Regions from separate parts of the Homo sapiens genome. Here all the other regions are reported to be linked to region 3. Evidence: microRNA targets listed by miRTarBase, many of them from high-throughput screens and not tested one by one. Region 3 holds a microRNA gene; each other region holds the end of a gene's coding sequence. Distances are between the middles of the regions.

Region 1 (4,000 bases), not on the chromosome of region 3:
CAGTGATGAGAGATGAGGGTGGAGATGGGAGCTGGGTCGTCTAAATCCAGGTAAACAGCTCGGACTTTGTCCTGATGGCAGTGAGGAGTCAGGGAAGGGTTTAAGCAGTGTAGTGAGGGAGGTCAGGTCTGCCCAGGGAGGTGGGTGGTTTCCCAGATGCCCGAATAGGAGGCCCTTTTGAGAAGTGTGGTTTGAGGACAAGTCCCATGGTGGTTGTCCTACTTTGCCCCCACCTGCCTGGCCTGCCTGGATTGAATCCTGCCCAGAGGAGCAGGTCCAAGTGGGGACAGGAAGGGTTTTGATTTAGCTTTTGCACCAAGTACAGAGCAGGTCTTCAATCAGGGAGCCTTGGGGGCTGCCCAGTGTCCAGGGCAGATGCCCAGACTGTGCTCAAGACAGTATGCAGTCTGTGTCCAGAGTAGTCACAGCAGGCTGTGTGTGGCCTCCAGGAGCTCCTTCAGTTTCAATTCCACTCTCTGCAAGTCGGGCTTTTTCTGTATTGCCAAGCCTCTGCCATTGCCATTGTCTCCTCTGCCTGTTGTGTGACACGCTCGCCTCTCTCCCTGTCCACCTCCTCCCGTTCTTCCCTCTCCCCCTCCATCTCTCTTGCTCCCTTCCCATACCAGCATCCTTTGTCATCCCAGCTGTCTTCACCTGAGTCCAGTTGGTCCTTACCACCCCCATTCTCCTCTCTCCCACCCAGACTGCCCGGTTCCTGGGCCTGACCTGGAGATCAATCCCACTCTGGAGTCTCTGTGTCTGAGCATGACAGAACACGCCTTGGGTGGTGAGCATTTCCTCTTTCCCTGACCCAGCTCCCACCTACCCAGCGTCTCTGCCTCTGAACTGAGCAACTCAGAGTCATCCTGAGGGGTCCCCAGGGGAGGCCAGACTCCAGGGAGGGCCTGACTGGGATGACAGGCTACCTGAGTGCCTTTTCTTGGGCCTCCCTCCAGCTCCTGATCTTCCTCCCTTCCTCCCTTTCTTACCACAGATGGGACAGACAAAACCTCCACCATCTGACGGGACCCACAGCCCAGCGCACCCATAGGCTCCCTGGGCGGCGGGCGGGGGCCAACCCCCAACGGGCTTCTCCGCGACAGCGAGAGGGTGGGCTGGCTCAGCTATATATTCTAATATTTTTCTACTCTCTTACCCTCTTAACTTTTGTTTAACATTGGCACATGCCTTGCTCACTCCCAGGCCCGTCGAGGGATCTCTGCTGAGGCCCGGGGAGTTGGGGGCAGCCAGGATAAAGGGGGCAGGGACTGGCCAGACTGCCTGCCTCTCTCCTTTCCTTCCTCATCCCCACCTGGTCCCATCCCACCCCTGCCTCCTCCAGACCGCTGACCACCTGCCTCTCCCCAAGGGAGCAGACTCCCCAGAGACAAACTGACCACTACCTTGTGGAGCCTGCTCAGAAACATTTGACATTTGGGGTGACGCGCAGGGCAGAGAACCTGCCCTCCAGAATGTTATTGAGAGGAGCTGGGGAGAAGGAAGGGGAGCAAGGAGAGGAAGCTCTCTCTCCTCTCCCTGCTTCCCCTTCACCATTCCCCACATTCTGCAAGGACAGGAGCCACCTTCCTCTCTCTCACCTCCCCTGGCCCTGTTCACCAGAGGTTCTCTATGATTAATTTCTTAGGCCTATTTAAGATACATATTTATATAGTTCTTAACGGTTTTTCTCTGATCATTTCCTCTCATTTTTAGAATCCCCAGGTCTCTCTCAGCCAAGACAGTGGCAGGGAGAGCCTGAACTTTATGAGGGGAGAGGGCAGAGCCCCCTCCTCCAGACCCTCAAGCTCTAACCCATTTTCCTCCAGCCCTGGCTACCCGGATGAAGAGGTTGGAGGTGGGCAGCCAGGGTAGCCAGTGAGGTCAGGAAGTCTGTTGCCTTAACGTCCCCTTCCCCACGAACACACACCCTTCTCCGCTCCCAGGTCTGGTTGGTGAGACTTGGGAGTCAGGAATAAGGGAAAGGGGATTGTTTGGTTTTTGGGTTTTTCCCTAAGCCCCTCCCTTTTCTTTCAGCCTTTTTCCTTCCCCCATTATGTCATGACCTCACTTAAGTGGAACACTATATCATAACCCAGAGATTCGTCCCAGCCCCAGAGTCCGACAGACTGTCTGGTCCCTATTCCTAATGAGGGGTTGTGTTGGGGCCCAGGTGGAGGGAGGGGATTTGGGGGTTCAGACTGCGGGGAAGCCAGGGTCTCCCTCTTCAACGCCCTCCTCCCCCTCAACCCACCTTCCCAACTGGGACATTCTCAAGCTTTTCACACCGAAAAGGAAAAAAAATGTTATTTTTAGATACATTTTATGAATAACTTTTGTTATGAATATGGCTGGTAACCATTGTGTATGTTATTAAAGATACAAAATGTTGGGAAAAAAACAAAAAAAACAAAAAAAAAAAAAATTTTAAAACCACCACCCTCCCTGCACTATCACCCCATTCCCCAGACCTTCTTGCCCCCGCCCTCCTGGTCTGTGGACTTCCCTCTGCTCTGAGCCCAGGGAGGGGGAAGAAGCCAGGGGGTAGGGTGGCCCTGGGAACCTGGCTCTGGGTCCCCACTTCCTCTCCCAGTGCCGGGCTGGGTGGGGTGTCAGGTTTATTTATGTACCTCTTGCACACTCATCAACCTATGCAAGTCCCCCACCCCGGCCCTCCATGTTTCTGTGCCTTTGCTCATCCCCTCAATCTCCCAGGGCTTCTCCAGTCCCCCTCCCACTAGCTGCAGGAAGTGGGATGGATGGGCCACCTCGTTTGGAATCAGCAGGGTGTCCCTCTCATGGGACCCTCCCCTCTCCCCAGCCTGTCCTGTCTTGTTCACTCTCCATCAGGGTGAGCTGACTGTGCCTGGCACTGGGAGGTGGTGAGGGACACCGTCTCACACACACAGGGAGGCAAGAGCTGCCCCCCACCCCACCTGACAGCAGAGTGTGCAGGACGCAGGCGGCCCCACTCTGATGGGCAGGACCCTGACCCTCTCCCGCTCCAGCCCCCTCCCCAGGCCCTCCTCCATGATTTCACCCTCCCTACCCACTTCTGTCCCCGGCCCCACTGGCAGAATCAGCTTTGAGTAACTGTACAGTTTTTCTCGCTGTTGGAGAAGACTTATTTGTTGGAGTTTCACTTGTTTAATGGTCTGGGCTTATTTTGGAAAAAAAAAAAACAAACAAAAAAAACGAATTCTGACCTTCGTTGTGCTACATTTTGTGGGAAACCATTGGCCCTGCCTCTGGCCTGTGTTTCTAAGCCTCAAGCCAAGATCCTTGAGCACCTGGGGGTTGCGGGAGGTATGTGCTGGGCTGAATGACATCATAGGGGCTGGGAGGGGAAGTAAAGAGAAGTTGACTTTATTAACAGCAAAGGTTTGGGGGTGGGGAACAAACAAGTGAAAGGCTCACAAACAGACCACTAGAAAAGTGCTTTGCTGCTCACAATAATGGTGTCTGAACCAGCCCTGAATGCCCTGGGACTCAGTCACTGTCACTATCAGCTTCACTGGAATCAGAAGCTGCAGCTTCACTGCCATCCTCCTGGGCCGAGTGCTCGCTGCCACTGGGGAAGGGACTGGCGCTGCGGCTGTGGCTCCGGCTCCGCTGGCCACCCCCATTGCTGCCGCTGTCTGAATCATTGTCACTGCCACCTTGGGCCTGTCCTCTGTCCTCATCATCAGAGTCGGCATCGTCCTCAGAATCAGCATCACTGCCAAAGATCTCCTCTTTGTCACGGGCAGCCCGGGCCTCATCCTCGCTGCTCTCGTCCTCACCACTGCCACTCTTGTCACTGGCCTCGTCCCTGTCACCTTCCTCCCGTTCACTCTCGCTGCCCGAGTGCTCATCTTCACTGCCCTCCTTCTCACTGCTGCTGCCCTTCTCCTGCTCCTCATCTGGAAGGGAGTGGAGAGAGATGAAACCCACTTTTCCACCCTCCCAGGGCTCCCAGAGTCTGGCCTGTCCAGATTTACCTGAGCCCCCAGCTTCTTTCTCT
Region 2 (4,000 bases), not on the chromosome of region 3:
CTTTGGCGCGCACACAGCCCCCCACGGGGGTGGCCATCAAGTAGAGCAGGGGACCCAGCTCCGGGCCTGGGGGTGCAGGGGACGCCACCCCAGGATGTTTGAGGGGACAAGCAGTGAGAGGGCTGGCGGGAAAGTGTAGGTTTCCAGGCCCGAAAACAGCACGTCCCAGGTCCCTGGAGTGCAGCAGGTGAGGGATGGAGGCCAGCCTGCCTCCTGTCAGGTCATGCTCCTGCTCCAGCTCCCCTGGGGCTCTGGGACCTGGGAGGGCAGTGAGAGGTGGGAGCTGAGCTGAGTGGGTTTCTAACCTACGTCCAGAGGGGAGTGAGTGGTGTCGTGTTCTGGTCCCAAGGAGTGGCGTAAAAGGTGACCACCCATAGGGCAGGCGCCCCACCCTTGCCAGCTGCGGGTCATGCCATGTGGCACCAAGAGACTCTGCAGGCGGGCAGGGCGCATGTGTTCCTTGCTCTCGTTCTGTCACAATGCTGCTCACGCATCTCTCCCGTTCCTTCCAGAAACCAGTAAAGACAGCTCTGGCACCAAGCCAGCCAACAAGCGGCCCATGTCCTCTCCAGAAATGTAAGCAGGAAGCCCCTCTCGGGAACCTTCTGAGACTAGGGGTGGAAATAGCTGGGTTCAGCCTCTTGTCAAATGACTGGGGGCCCCTAACCGGCCCTGCACCAGCAGGGCCTCCAGTGGTGCAGGGCCCACACTAACTTTCTCTTTCCTTTTTCTGCCTTCCAAGGAAATCTGCTCCAAAGAAATCTAAGGCCGATGGTCAGTGAGAGGAAGCTGACTAGCCCCTGGATTCTTCTCCAGACCCCCCTGCTTCAGGAACACCCGCCAGGGCCCACCCCTCCCACCCCGTCCCAGCATTCGCACTTCACCCTCGCGAGCCGCTGTTCACTCCTCTCCCCTTTCTCTTTCTCTCTGTTTTTAAAATAATCTAAAGAAAGCACATTTTACCATTGCTGTTGGGAGGAAGCAGAGGCAGATGGGAAAGCAGAGAGAGGAGCGCGCTTCCTTTCCTCCCCGCTGCCGCCCACCCTGGGGAGAGACTTTTGCGGGGAGGGAAGGCGGAGCTGAGGACAGCCAGCTCCGCCCTCCCAAGGCTGTGCGTTCCTGAGGGCCAGGTCGGGGGCAGGCATGGAGGGGAGGAAAGGCGTCCCTCTTGGCCCTCCCCAGAGTGGCTTTCCTGGCACCCTGGCCTGGGTGTCTGGTTCTGTTTTCTTTTCTTCCCCTTGTGTTTCCAGTCACCTAACTTCCCTTCCTCAGGCTCCCCCGGCCCACCCTGCTCAGTGACCCCACAGGAAGCTTACACATTTTCTCAGAGGCCTTTGTGCTCCCACCTCTTCTACCCTCCCCCTCTTCTTTCCCATTTTAAAAAAGAAAAGAAGGAAAAAGAAAAAAGGGGCAAGGAGCCCCGCGGCGGCCTGGGCAGCGCCTGTGCAGACCTCCCTGCAGGCCGCACTGCCAACTGCTGCATTTGTTGTGTTTTTTAGGTTGCAATTGGTGAAGTTCACACTTTCATTGTAATTTTAGCGTGTGGGGTTTTGTCCCTTTTTTGTTGTTGTTAGCTGTGTACAGAATGTGTAATCTTTTTTCTTTTCTCTTTTTTTTGTTTTGTTTTGTTTTGTTTTTGTTTTTTTACTTTTTTCTTCTTGGCTAATTCTTGGCAGGGATCTTTCTGGAGGAAAAGCTGGGGCCAGCCAGGGCAGGAGAGGTGTGAAATCTGCCACGAGGGGCCTGCTGTTTGCCACCCAGCCCAACTTCCTGTTGCTGGCCCCTGCCCTCTGCCCTTTTGCCTGTCCTCAGGCCGCTGGAACAAAGGAAGGACAGCTCATTCCTCATGGGCGATCACTCCGCATCTATAGGGTCGAGCCTAGGGGAGCTTGAGGGAGGGCTGGGGCCTCCTTGTCCTGGATTTCCAGCTCTCCCCATGCCCCCTCCCTGAGCACCACCGGCACCGCCTCCCAAACAGGGCTGCTGGTTTCCGCAGCCACTGCTCCACCTCCCCCAAATCGTCATGGAAAGGGTGGAGAATGGAGGGGAACCAGGCGTCCTTGGAGGCAGCTTGGGAGGGTGACTGTGTAGTGTCACCCACAAGGGAGGCTAGGGCAATGGAGCAGGCCACCAGCAGCAGCTGTGCAGCATGGAACTCAGGCCAGGCTCCGAGGCTGGGGGATCTGCTTGGAGTTTTCTGCCCCCCACCCCAAACTTCTGTCGAGGAGCAAGGCTTGCCAGCAAGTCAGAAGGATTTGAACCGAGCAGCCAATCTTTCCAGCCCTCCCCTACCGACCTCTGCCTGGAGACGCAGCAGCCTGTGTCCTCCAGGGCCTCTGGTTTGTTGTATTATAGTATATTTCGCTGTGGAAAATGTCACGTTTAGTCACCTTGGAGCCCACTCACCTGGTCCTGTTGTTTTACCCCATCCCTTCTCTCGCGCGCCTATTGATTTGTTTCTGAGGAGAGTACACCGTTCACTATTGTAGAGTAACCCCTGTGACTCAATATTACCATAGTGCGATGTCGTTTTGTGCTATTTTGAACAATTAAAAGACTTTTTTTGAAATAACCACTAGGTGTCTCACTGTGTCCCGGCATCCTCTCAGGAAGCCTGAGCGGGAAGGCTGAGACCTGCCCGAGGCTCACGGGAGCCCCCTGGAGGGAGACCTGAGCTCTGGTGAAAGCGTAGAAGGCCCCAGAGTGAGGCCTCTGCTGTGGCCTCCGGTCTTTGGACCAAGTCGGACCAGGGTCCAGCAGGTTGCTTGGTAGCTGCCTTGCAGGGCAAGGGCCAAAGAGCCCCTTGGGCAGCTGCTGCTGACTTCCTGTGTCTGGGGCCCAGATCTCCCTCCCTCCCCTCCTGCACTAGAGGATAGGATGGGGCAAGGGCCTGGCAGGTCACCAGCGGCAGCCTCCTTGGGTGGGTTGGGGGGAGGTGGGCTGAGTCAAGTACACCACGGGTACTGCAGAGGTGGATCCCTTCCTCTGGCTTCCTCTTAAATGTGAGCCATGCCCCCAAGGGGAAGAAGCAAGAGCTTGTGATCCAGACTGACCACCTAGCAGCTGGGTCGGTAGGACAGCTGGGATCCCGTGGGCTGAATTTGTACCAGGAGGCCCAGAAAGCTCCGGGGCAAGGTGGCCGGAGCAGCACAGGCCTAGGCGGGTCTGAGGGGAGTGACACCCTGCTTCTGGGGCCTGGTGCTCCTGGCGCACCTGCATTCCCCGCCCCCTCCAAGCCCCTGCCGCCTGCCTTTGTTTCCCCTACACACCTCTACTGCCCAGCCTTCCTCTCAGAGCACCCAGGCACTCCGCTACCAGAAGCTCCTGGAGTAACCAAAGCCTCCGTGTCTCCACCTGTGGCATGGGTGTGTGTGCAAGGCCCTGTCGAATGCGACCTCTTCTGGGAAGCCTCTGTCCTGTGGGGTCTGCTGTGTCATGTGGGGGTGGGGGGAAGCAGACTGGCCAGGGCTTGACACCAGGAGCCATGGCTCTGTCTTACCCACCGCACCAACTGTGACCTGCCTTGGAGCCTAGCCTCGCAGAGGCCCAAGGAGAGGGGTGGGAAAGTGTCCTTCAGAGCAGAGCGGTAGGAGTCATGGCTGGGGCTGGTGGAGGCCAGGGGCCACATGGGGCTGGCCCCAGAACCGAGGGGCCTTGCGGATTTGCCATACCTTTGGCAAATGGCGTTGTGGGCGCTTCGCCTGGTGGGGGTGGTACAAGGCTTCTTCCTACCCCACTTCTGTAGCTGGCACCTGTGGGGCTACCCACCCTCCGCATTCCTTCAGCTCACTTGTCTCACCGCGGCTGCATCACACTCCACAAGGCAAGGGCCACATCAGTCATGCCTCTGGTGTTTATCTGAAAATACCGCGTTTCCGTCTGAGGGCACCACTCAGTCTGGGGAGGCAGGAGGGAGGCTGGACATGAATGTGAACATGACAGGCCTGTGAGCAGGGCAGGTAGATACAGCCCGGCTGGGCACAAAGCTCATCCCCTGAGC
Region 3 (4,150 bases):
CCAAGACCTTGCCTCAAAAAAAAAAAAAAAAAAAAAGCCAATTTTTATGTGTTGATTTCATATCCTGTTGCTTAGGTAATATCCTAGTCAATGGTGAAAGACTGAAAGCTTTTCCTCTAAGATCAAGAATAAGACAAGGGATCCCTGCTTTTGCCATGTCCACTCAACATAGTATTTGAAGTTATAGTCCAGAAATTAGACCAGAAAAAGACAAATAGCATTTAAATTGGAAAGAAAGAAGTAAAATTGTGTCTGTTCACAGATGATATAATCTTATACTTAGAAAACCATAAAGACTTCACAACAAAGCCTACTGGAACTAATAAATGAATTTGGCAAATTAGCAAGTACAAAATCTCTGCCTTCTTTTAAACATAGTTTTAGCTAACACTGCATTAAAATTGTAGATCCTGCTTTTTTGCCTAACATCTATCCTCTACATTTCTCTTCATGAGTAGTAATTTAGGATCATTTTTAATGGCTGCATAATATTTAATCTTATAATGACCCATTTCCTTAATGTTTGACATTGTAGTTTCCAGTTCTAGGGAGCATTATAAGCAACTGGGATAAATACCATTGCAAGCCTTTGTCTGCATCTCTGATTTTTTAAAATGTATATTCATAGTAGTAGAATTAATAATCACAGGGTATGAACTTGAAAGCCACAAAAATCTATCTCCTGACACTCTTCACAAATTGTGTAAAGGTTGTACTGACTGCCATTGTCCTCAGTCAGTGTTGGGGTGTTTTTATCTCACTCATCACACCCTTGTAAGCATTAATTATTTATTTGCAGTTTATCTTGTTTTAAAACACAAATATTTGGCCAAAACAGGAGGAGTTTTACATCCTAAGGGGATGCAGCATTGAATGTTACTCTTTCTCTGCTAATTGGATATTTGAAAATAATATTTCGTTGTTTCAATTTGCATTCCTTTAATAGGGTGAATTTTTTTCATGTTTATGAGCAACTTGTATTTTTAGTGAATTGTTATTTAGTACTTATTAGGGTTTTGAGTTTTTTATATTTGTTATGAGCTTTCTTTATATTATTACAGATATTATAACCTTTTTGTCATATTTCATAGTTTGCTTAGCCAGTTGTTTGATAGTAAGTCTTTTTGAATTGTATGTTTATTTTAAAGTCTATGCAATGGGATATTGTCATTAATTCCAGTAGTCAGGTTATGTGTGCTTGCCTTCCTTCCTTTTTTCTTTTGTTTTAGGAGATTGTAAAAATTAATAAACAAGTGAAGTGAGAATGCTTGTTTGTAATAATTAAGAAAATAGTCAATTTAAGTTTCATAAGCATTTTGCAAACATTTATATACAGTTGATATGACTGAGATTTTATTGTTTCCTTTTTTGTTCATTAAAATTTGGCTTCTTTAAGGATGTCTATAAACAGCAATTATAAAGTTAAGCGTTTTAAAATTCCTACAGCGTAATGAAATACTATATCTACAGATTTGAGAAATTTGAGGGATCTGTATATGAGATGGCAATAGAATGAAACAGTAGAAACTAATACTTTGTCTTTAATTTTCTACAAATTTAATGTTTCTATTTCTGTGCACATGATACTTGCTTTATGTTCTTTTGTATTTAAACATGTTTGTATTTATTATCTTCTTTCTAGTTGTTTCACTCCTCGTGTGGTACTTGTTTAATATTACATATCAGTTACGTTATCTTGTCTACCTCTTATACCTAGAAATTAGTGGAAACTGGCAGTGTACCTGCTGTTTCTTGAGATCATGACAAGACAAAAACAAATCCTGTTGTCTCATTAACATATTTTAAAGTATATTTTTTAAAACTTAACATAATTGCATCTTCAGCAAAATATGAATAGTATAATACCCAGGCTCCTTCTCTGGAATTGTCTGGTTCCTCTTTCTTTCTAGGATATCAGTAGCAAAACATTTATGGGAGCACCACATGTAAGATGCTGAAGTGGTGTCTTTTTTTGCTTGGTCCTGTACAATCAGAGTACCACTTGAGGCCATTCTAATGCTGTAGGCTGAGGTAACTTGCGTCTTCATGTAAGTTACTTAATAGATTGTTAAATTTTATTTACTTTTTAATAAAGTAAAATACTTGTGAAAGCACATTTATCGGCACCAGGGAAAGAAAGTGTTGGCATTCATAATTGAAATCAACGAATCACCTACCTAACTGGGTTAGGGCCCTGGCTCCATCTCCTTTAGGAAAACCTTCTGTGGGGAGTGGGGCTTCGACCCTAACCCAGGTGGGCTGTAACACTGCTGTGTTTTCTAAGGGGCAGAGTTTTCTACTACTTTTCCGCTGGCCCAGCCTTCCAGATCACCCCAACCAGTGCTCCTATATAACCATCCTGTGCTCCTATAGAACTTTGTTTTGTACCTCTGTTTTAACAATCAGCACATTCTGCTTTGTATTATACCTATTTGTTTGCATGTCTGTCTTCCCTTAATAGATTGTAAGTTCTTTGAGGACAGGAGTCATGTCTTAGTCATCTATGTATGGTTCCTTGGAGTCTAGCACAGTGCTTTACCCATCTCAGAAAGTAAATTCTTATTTTAAAGTGATGAATGTGCTGCAACCCAGCTAGTGAAAAAGAACCCTACTGGGAGTTATCACAAGTTTTCTGACTATTAACATATGATAATATCAAAGGACAGGAAAGCAGAATCACCCAATTGTGGTAAAACTGTGAGTTACCAATTTTAAACATGTCAATATATAATAAAAAATACTAAAAAGCTTATAATGCCAATTCTCATCAGGTACAAATTTGATTCCTGAAATCACCAAGGGGAAAAATGTAAAATTACCTGAAATGCGTTATTTTAAAGATGTTAAAGGAAGAAACAGAAGTCCTCACAATTGACTTAAATATTCAAATCTTTGATAATTTACTTGAATTTCTGAATTGAGTTTTAGGAAACTCAGACTACTTTTTCTCAATGTAGCTTTTCCTTCATAGATAGGCAATTCTGGTTCAACCAGGAATTGTGATGACATCATAAACACGTAAACTCTTAGCAATTTATTTATTTTAAAATATTCTCTTAGAGTGCTTTTTACTTACTATCTGTTCCAAAAGAAACCCCCTCAAAGGAGAATAGAGTTCACTGCTCTTTGGGACAAGATTACCTTTATATCCAGCAGTTATCAAAGTTGGTTTAGATTATGGCCTCAAGCAAATTTTACTAAAATGTGAAAATATGCCACCTTCCAAGTCAGAAATAAACTTTGGAGTATGTTCATTTAAAGAGTTTTTACATATTTATAATTGAATTTCCACAATTAGAATAAACAGTTGCATGTCTTTTTGTACTTTGTTAAATAATGAAATGGAAGTAATGACAATATAACTTCAGGATTGTTATTTCTCTACAAGGTAAAGCACTTTAAGAGATCAAATTATACATAATAAAATATTAAGCTTTTTAAATGATAAACTCTAATACTGGCATGTATTGCAATGAACGAGTTCACACACTCATATCTTGTGGATTATAAAATGACATTATTCTTTTGGAAAGTATTATGTTATAAGAACCATAAGAAGTTCATACTCTTTGATTCATTAATTCTAGTCTTAGGAAACGATGCTTGAAAAACAGTTTTTAAAAAGTGTATTCAGTTTAGCTAATGTTTGTCACGTACCTCATACGAATTAGACACTGTGGTGGGAGCTGCAGATTAAAAAAATGAAAGGTTTAATGTTATTAGAAGAAAGATGTTTATTGCAGTCTTATTAAAGAGGAAAAGAAAAATGGAACAACCTTGATGTTCAACAATTTGTGAATGCTGTTAAATTAATATTTTGGCATATTATGCAGCTTTAAAAGTGATAATTGTACATACTTTAGGAAAATGTAGAGAAAATTTAAGTAAAAAAAATTAATTACATCAGCACTAGAATTATGTATTTAAAAAGTCTTATAGACCAGGGACAGTGGCTCATGCCTATAATCCCAGCACTTTGGGAGGTTGAGGCGGGAGAATTGCTTGAGTCCAGGAGTTCAAGACCAGCCAGGGCAGCATAGCTATACCCTCATCCCTACCAAAAAAAAAAAAAAATTAGCCTATTGTAGTGGCGCAAGCCTTGTAGTCCCAGCTACTCAGGAGGTTGAGGTGGGAGGATTGCTTGACTCCA
Region 4 (4,000 bases), not on the chromosome of region 3:
AGGTTGCAGTGAGATGAGATCGTGTCATTGCACTCCAGCCTGGGCAACAACGTGAAACTCCGTCTCAAAAAAAAAAAATTGTTTCATTGTTGAATAAAAAGAAAAATAAGTTATGTCATTGGTGGACAGAATCAACTTATATCTGAATAAAATAACTATACCAATTAAAACTAAAGTAGGCCAGGCGTAGTGGCTCACGCCTATAATCCCAGCACTTTGGGAGGCCAAGGTGGGTGGATCATTTGCGATCAGGAGTTTGAGACCAGCGTGGCCAACATAGTGAAACCCTGTCTCTACTAAAAATACAAAATTAGCCAGGCAAGGTGGTGGGCACCTGTAGTCCCAGCTACTTGGAGGATTGAGGCAGGAGAATCGCTTGAACCTGGGAAGCAGAGGTTGCAGTGAGCTGAGATCACACCACTATACTCCAGCCTAGGCAAGAGTAAGACTCCATCTCAAAAAAAAAATAAAAATAAAAATAAAATAAAAACAAAAACTAAAGTTAAAAGGTCTGGTATACTGAACTGGTAAACTAATTACAATTTTGCTTTCCAACCTCCTCAAGTATTTAAAAGACCCAACTCAGCCCATCTTAGAGGCCTTGGACAAGGACAGCTCACCAAAGGATGACGTCTGGGACTCTGTGTCCATTATCTCGTTTCCGGAAAAGGAGCAAGAAGATGTTCTCCAAACGCTTTGAACCAAAGCATGGGCCTAGCCCACTGGCTCCCTGGAAGAGATCAAGCCATCGGAGCTGCTAGAGTTCTGTCTGGACTTTCCAGAGACCAGTATTCCCTTTTGCTGCCTCTAAAAGGCCTGTCCCTGCAGACATGAGAGACAGCAGGTCTCATGGGGGTGACAAGCTTTTTTTTTTTTTCTTAAAGAATTTTCAAAATCAAATTCCAGAATGATTTTACGGAGATATCCCAGGAAAATTAAGGCTTCTCTTAAACACTAAAAAGGCATGTAATTGCTTGTTAGCAAAATGGATATGACACATCTCTGATACTTTTTTCATTATTGGTTGGGCTGAGCAGTCAGAAGACCTGGTCGTCGTCTTGACTTTGGCAAATGAGCCGGAGCCCCTTGGGCAGGTCACACAACCTGTCCCAGCGAGGGACACCGAGTGGCCCTTCATGTACATCCATGGTGTGCTGGCTTAAAATGTAATTAATCTTGTAAATATACTCCTAGTAATTTAAGATTTTGTTTTTAAACTGGAAATAAAAGATTGTATAGTGCATGTTTTTTAAAGTCTATGTGAAGTGTTTTCTTTATTGTAGCCTATTTTCTGCAGAGTTTCAGCTTTCTAAAATTACTCAATCTAAACTTGTTTTTTCTTAAATAACACCTGCTAGAGCTACTGAGGCCTCATGGGAACTCAGCAAACACTTCCTATGGATGTCACTTGATCCTCCAAAGGTTATAAAGAAGGCCAGGGCCTAGTGCAGTGGCCCACGCCTATAATCCCAGCACTTTGGGAGGCTGAGGTGGGTGGATCACTTGAGGCCAGGAGTTCTAGACCCACCTGGGCAACATGGTGAAACCCTGTCTCTATGAAAAATGCAAAAATTATCCAGGCATGATGACATGCACCTGTAGTCCCAGCTACTTGAGAGGCTAAAGTGGGAGGATGCTTTAGCCTGGGAGGCGGAGGTTACCATGAGCCGAAATGATGCCACTGCACTCCAGCGTGGGAGGCAGAGCGAGACCCTATCTCAAAAAAAAAAAAAAAAAGAGGGCTGGGCATGGTGGCTCATGCCTGTAATCCCAGCACTTTGGGAGGTCAAGATGGGAGGATCGCTTGAGGCCAGGAGTTTGAGAACAGCCTGGGCAACATAGTGAGACCTTGTTTTCACAAAAAATAAAAAATTAGCTAGTCGTGGTGGTGCACACCCGTAGTCCCAGCTACTCAGGAGGCTGAGACCAGAGGATCATTTGAGCCTAGGAGTTAGGAGTTCAAGGCTGCAGTGAGCAATGATTACACCACTACATTCCAGCCTTGGCAACAGAGCAAGAGACCCTGTCTCAAAAATATAAAAGTTATAAGGGGGATTTGCAGAAGGCACATTAGCACTTCATTTATATGTGACAAGTCACACTGTGTTGACCAAGGCAGGGATTTGTGGGCAATAAAGAGAATTAACTGATTAATCAATAGTAATGTTATCTACTGAGCACGCAAGTCATCTGATTGTGTCAGTACTGTCGGGCTCTGTTGTTCAAAGGATATGTATTTAAAATCCATTTATAGGCTGGGCACGGTGGCTCACACCTGTAATCCCAGCACTTTGGGAGGCCGAGGCAGGCAGATCACCTGAGGTCAGGAGTTCGAGACCAGCCTGGCCAACATGGTGAAAGCCTGTCTCCACTAAAAGCACAAAAATTAGCTGAGTGTGGTGGCAGGCACCTATAATCCCAGCTACATGGGAGGCAGTTGGGGCCCTGTACTGCTGGTAAGAAAGTGGCTTTTTTTTTTTCTTTTGAGACAGAGTCTCACTCTGTCGCCCAGGCTGGAGCGCAGTGGCGCGATCTCAGCTCGCTGCAACCTCCACCTCCCAGGTTCAAGCAATTCTCCTGCCTCAGCCTCCCGAATAGCTGGGATTACAGGCGTGCACCACTATGCCTGGCTAATTTTTGTATTTTTAGTAGAGATGGGGTTTCACCATGTTGGCCAGGCTGGTCTCGAACTCCTGACCTCATGATCCACCCACCTTGGTCTCCCAAAGGGTTGAGATCACAGGCGTGAGCCACCGTGTCCGGCAAAAGTGGCTAACTCTCTTAAGTGTTGTGTACCATGCTGTCTGCAGTGGCAAGAGTTAGAAAAACAAGGCCCACTCCCACCCCATGCACACAAGTCTCCCTGTGAAGCATCTGTTGTATGCATTAGGTGCACCTTAAGTAGACAAGTTTGGAGGAAGAAGTTGTAGATAGGAGTTGTAAAGACTTACCTTAGACCGTTCAGGAAATCGGAGACAGAAGAGCTTCTTCTGTTGGGCAGCAGGATGGTGGCCAGCGAGGAGTGGAGGATACATCTATAGCAGGAGAACAGGAAAGAGTTTCAGCCCAGCAGGACAGAGGGCAAATCAACTCTGTTAGGGTAAGTGCATCTGTGCCACCCCATTTATTTATTTAGAGACACAGTCTCACCCTGTTGCCCAGGCTGGAGCGCAGTGGCACAATCTCACTTCACTGCAACCTCTGCCTTCCGGGTTCAAGCGATTTTTGTGCCTCAGCCTCCAGAGTAGCTGGGATTACAGATGTGCGCCACCACACCCAGCTAATTTTTGTATTTTTAGTAGAGATGGGGTTTCACTATGTTGGTCAGGCTGGTCTCAAACTCCTGACCTCAGGTGATCCGCTCACCTCAGCCTCCCAAAGTGCTGGGATTACAGGTGTGAGCCACTGTGCCCAGCCTTAAATAGTATTTTCTGAAATGAAATGCCTCATTCTCCTTAGTAAAATAAATGACTAATTGATGGGATTAGTATTTACACTGTCAAGGCCAGGCGCAGTGGCTCACACCTGTAATCCGAGCACTTTGAGACCCTGAGGTGGGTGGATCATGAGGTCAGGAGTTTGAGACAAGCCTGGTCAACATGGCGAAAACCTGTTTCTATTAAAAATACAAAAATTAGCTGGGCGTGGTGGCTCACACCTGTAATCCCAGCTACTTGGGAAGCTGAGGCAGGAGAATCACTTGAGCCCGAGAAGCGGAGGTTGCAGTGAGCTGACATGGCACCTCTGCACTCCAGCCTGGGCAACAGAGCAAGACTCTGTCTCAAGAAAAATAAAGTCAAGCTAAGTACATTGTCAAAATTTTTGAGTTGGAAGCACTCTTATAAATAATCCGTTGACAGGGCATAATCCATAACCTACTTGCCAAATCAGCCCATTCCCTGTTTTTGTAAAACCCGTGTGCTAAGAATAGCTTTTACATCTTGGAATAGTTAAAGTCAAAAGAAGAATATTTCATCACACATGAAAATTCTATGATATT
Region 5 (4,000 bases), 21 Mb from region 3:
CAGGCCACCTGGTCTAAATGTATGACACATCCTTTTCTCTCTACATGCCAGTTGGCAACCTTATTTTAGAGTGTCCAAACTTTGCTTAAGAAAAGACTTAAAAGATTCCTCCAAATACCCATCCAACCAAAGTTTATCTGATTTTCGATAAGGTACCATCCCCAAATATGAAATGCTAAGTCTCATAATAAAACACCTTTGGCATTTAAATGTCCAACATCTCAACCTTTTGTCTTGTTAAAGGATTATAAAAATGTACAATACTTTAAAACCATGAAATAAACTAGGTAAAACTAAGGAGACACAAGTAAAATACAATGTCCTTGCTGAAGACTCTGAATAATGGCTTTAAGAAATACCTGAGTCTGGCAAAATACTAGATACTAGAAGTCGGTACCAAGGGCAATTAAATCGATGCTCTTTTTCCCATCAGCGAGGTAAGCTCTGGAGCCTCCAGAGAGCTGAATCAGACCCGGTGGCTTTCCTCTTTGCTCAAACATTTATTTCTGAAATGGCGGGCATGTCACCAAATGATAATACTTAAAGCAAGTTCACAGGTTTTGTTAAAAAAAGAAAACAATCTAGTACATCCACAAATAGGAAACCAAACACACCTGAACACATCTATGATTAAATAAGAATATTTAATGGCATGGAATGATATGTACACTGTAGGTTCAATATGTTTTCAAAACATACCTAGCACCTATGGCTGCCTGTGCCTAGTAAATAGAAAAGGTATAACAGAATAATTTTTACAATTTACAAAGTTTAATACAATTGAGAAAGGTTTCTATAAACATTGTTAAAATATTTCAGAGGGCAAATGCTTACTTTGCATAGCAATGCTTCAGTTACCTGGAATGCCCTCCCTTCTTTCTTCCAAGCAATTTTATGCAGCACGAAGCTCAGTGGCTCTACTCCAAGTGCCAACAAGGTGAACAACCCAGTTCCTGCTCTCATGGAACTCACATTCTGGTGGAATTTGTTTTTGCAACATACTTGCTGACAATATCAAATTAATAAGCCATTAGTATTGAAAAGTAATTTACACACTCTCCAGTCTGGTCCTTATTTTGATATATGTCTTCCTATGAGATGGATGCAAACTCACAGCAAAAACTATGTGTATACATACAGCCACATGCCGCATGATGTTCAGTCAAGGATGGACCACGTATATGGCAGTGGTTCCACAATACTGTATTTTTGCTACGCCTTTTCTATGTTTCGATACACAAATGTTTACCACTGTGTTACAACTGCCTACAGTAGTCAGTACAGTCACATGCTGCCCAGGTTTGTAGCCTAGGAGCAACAGGCCATACCATAGAGCCCAGGTGCACAGTAGGCTGTACCATCTAGGTTTGTGTGTCACTCTATGATGTTTACACAATGACAAAATTGCCTAATGATACATTTCTCAGAATATATCCCCATCCTTAACTGATGTGTGACTGTATTTTACTAACCTGGCCAGGTGGAACCTTCACCAATAAAAATTCTACATGAAAAATGCTATTTATTGTTTCTTTCAGACATTAGAGATTCCTTAACTTTAGTTTAAATAATCTTAATATGCAAACTTTTTATTTCCCTTGTTCTCCAAATATGATAAACCAAGATTTTTAATATTAACAGGTATGAGTTCTGCCTACATACATTGTCTTTGGAAAAGGCAATTATCTGCAACTGTAATTAAACATTCTTTTATTTCCCCCATTGCTAAAGGATTCCACTCTTCTGGCTAAAATATAAAACTATACAATTATAAATACTTATTTGCAATGCTTCTCTTTGAACAAATTTGCTTGTTGTATAAGACACTTGCTGATCACCTTGTAAGCTACTTAAAACATGGTATGACTTGAGTGCCTTGTATATTTTAGTTGAATTATAGTTTTGCATTTTAAAATATATCAATTATGCTATATAACAAATTAGTTTTAAATTATAATTGTTATGGGCTTACTATGTGTCAGTCCCCAGGCCTATCAGCATAATGGATGATGAAATTCATAATAGCTCTTGAGGAACAGAGGAAAATGTACACCCAGAGTTGCCCAGAGAGGTCTGGGAGTGTTCCAATTGTCACTTCCCAGGTGGACCTAGCCCTGACAGGATCCTCACATCCTCTTCCCTTCTTATGGAGATACAAAGCTGAGCACCTGCCTACAGACTTTAGGCTTTTAGAGAGCCTCTCAGACTAGGCCAACTGCTCATAATCCTGCCAACCCTCTTTGGCCCCTATGATGTTGTAAAGGCAATGTGGCACTCATATCAGCAGCACACATACTATAACTGGCACAACACAGAGGTCAGCATGGGCCCCATGCACAGATGACACACAAATTCATGAAGTGTTCTACATACATATATGTATAATTTTTTTTTTTTGAAACAGGGTCTTGCCCTGTCGCCCAGGCTGGAGTGCAGTGGTGCTATCATGGCTCACTGCAGCCTCAACCTCCCAAGCTCAAGTGATCCTCCTACCTCAGCCTCCCAAGCAGCTGGAACTACAGGTGTGCACCCACCACACCTGGCGAATTTTTTATTTTTTGTAGCGATGAGGTTTTGCCATGTTGCCCAAGTTGGTCTCAAATTCCTGGGCTCAAGTGATCCTCCTGCCTTAGCATCCCAAAGTGCTGGGATTACAGGCGTGAGTCACTGTGCCCAGCTGCGTTCCATATTTCTACACACCCATGCATACATGGAGGAGTATACGTTGGGGAAAGTAAAGCTGGGGAAATGTGAATAAAATCAGCGGGCTGTATTGATGTCAACATCCTGATTGTTATATGTGTGAAACATTACCACTGAGAGAAATTGGGCAAAATATACAACTATATGTGAATCTATGATTACATCGTATAGGAATAGATTCCCCATAACTATATCAACATACAATCATAAAATACATACATCGCCTATGTAATAGTATGATTACTTCAACATAATGTTTAATTTAAAAAAAGGCAATGTAGCTAGGCAGGTATAACGCATGAGCATAATACGGGAAGCCTATCTCACTGATACATACGATTTCCTTGGTCTCTGCACCTGAGACAATAATCTCCTAAGTCTAAAGCTTTAAAAAAGTACTTACTGTTACCTTGTCACTATACTAATGTGCAGAACATATGAAATAAGATAGAAAATGTCCACAAGGGCCAGTGATCAAAGGAGCCCATAGATCCTGGGTGCACAGTAGGCTGTACCATCTAGGTTTGTGTGTCACTCAAACAAAAAACAAAACAAAAACACTACACACTATTCTCTAAAATCTTCCATGGGAGCTCAGAGTTCAAGTGAATATTTCTTTCTCTTCTGGAAGACTCCTCATGAAGGTGGTAGTATAAATAATTATCCACAAAGAATTGTCAGGCATTCATCCCTAATGAAAACTACTAAGCCAAAAGTAACAAAAAAATATTTTAATGATATTTCTGTAGGACAAAATAATTAAACTGAGGCAGGCAGAGGAAAGTAAGAGAATCCACATAACCACAGCTTACATCACTTTAAATCTCGACAGCCCCAAGTCATGAGAATGAACCCAGTCCCAGCAGCCCAGGCTTCTCTGTTCCTCCTCCTGCAGGCACAGTTTGAGTAGAGACATCTCTTGAGCTCTTTCCCACTGACTTGTCATTCACAGGCATTCAAACTGTGATGTTTGAAACTGTCTACCTCCGCAGATCCAGGGACAGTCCCTCCAGTCCAAAGGCTCACTGCAATTGGCCCTCAGCCCCCTTCAAACTGGACTTCTGGTTTCTTCTTTCCTTCTGCCCCTGAATTCTGAAGAGCTTCTTCCTGAGGTCCTTCTGCCGCTTCAGCTTCTCCTCCTCCTCCTTCTGCTTGGCTCTGAAGTGCTCTTTATTGTGCAGGTGCCGCTGCTCCTTGGCCTTCTTCATCTTCTGACTATGCACCGTACTCAGAGCATCCAGCAGTGCAAGGATCTGACAAGGACAAAAGCCGGTGAGTATCAGAATGCTCTCAGACA

Evidence for each region. Region 3 holds the annotated microRNA hsa-miR-1296-5p (UUAGGGCCCUGGCUCCAUCUCC, at 2,187-2,208, shown strand). A microRNA usually pairs through its seed, bases 2 to 8, with sites in the 3' UTR of a target mRNA and lowers its output. Matches are read on the target gene's strand: a 7mer-m8 pairs with bases 2 to 8, a 7mer-A1 pairs with bases 2 to 7 and ends in A, and an 8mer does both.
Region 1: miRTarBase lists PAF1 as a target of hsa-miR-1296-5p. The part of its 3' UTR that is shown has no 7-base or 8-base seed match.
Region 2: the mRNA of HCFC1 is a reported target of hsa-miR-1296-5p. The part of its 3' UTR that is shown has no 7-base or 8-base seed match.
Region 4: the mRNA of IFNGR2 is a reported target of hsa-miR-1296-5p. The part of its 3' UTR that is shown has no 7-base or 8-base seed match.
Region 5: the mRNA of BMS1 is a reported target of hsa-miR-1296-5p. The part of its 3' UTR that is shown has no 7-base or 8-base seed match.

The regions. Positions count from the first base shown.
Region 1 is chr19:39,382,505-39,386,504 of GRCh38, forward strand. It overlaps PAF1 (PAF1 component of Paf1/RNA polymerase II complex), which reads right to left. Exons shown (of 14, transcript NM_019088.4): 13 at 3,978-4,000; 14 at 3,125-3,899. The coding sequence ends at 3,487. It overlaps SAMD4B (sterile alpha motif domain containing 4B), which reads left to right. Exons shown (of 14, transcript NM_001384574.2): 13 at 704-787; 14 at 995-3,196. The coding sequence ends at 1,023. Among named protein-coding and RNA genes, the nearest start is that of PAF1, 6.6 kb to the right of the region's middle.
Region 2 is chrX:153,946,129-153,950,128 of GRCh38, reverse strand. It overlaps HCFC1 (host cell factor C1), which reads left to right. Exons shown (of 26, transcript NM_005334.3): 25 at 513-576; 26 at 743-2,572. The coding sequence ends at 782. Among named protein-coding and RNA genes, the nearest start is that of RENBP, 3.5 kb to the right of the region's middle. RefSeq lists an enhancer at 1,865-2,404.
Region 3 is chr10:63,371,070-63,375,219 of GRCh38, reverse strand. MIR1296 (microRNA 1296) reads left to right here and starts at 2,172; the gene lies at 2,172-2,263. All of the region lies in intron 2 of JMJD1C (jumonji domain containing 1C), which reads left to right.
Region 4 is chr21:33,436,263-33,440,262 of GRCh38, forward strand. IFNGR2 (interferon gamma receptor 2) reads left to right here. Exons shown (of 7, transcript NM_005534.4): 7 at 566-1,254. The coding sequence ends at 700. It also overlaps a transcript of TMEM50B not described here. Among named protein-coding and RNA genes, the nearest start is that of IFNGR2, 35 kb to the left of the region's middle.
Region 5 is chr10:42,830,822-42,834,821 of GRCh38, reverse strand. BMS1 (BMS1 ribosome biogenesis factor) reads right to left here. Exons shown (of 23, transcript NM_014753.4): 23 at 1-3,956. The coding sequence ends at 3,726. It also overlaps the pseudogene RNU6-885P. Among named protein-coding and RNA genes, the nearest start is that of LINC02623, 39 kb to the left of the region's middle.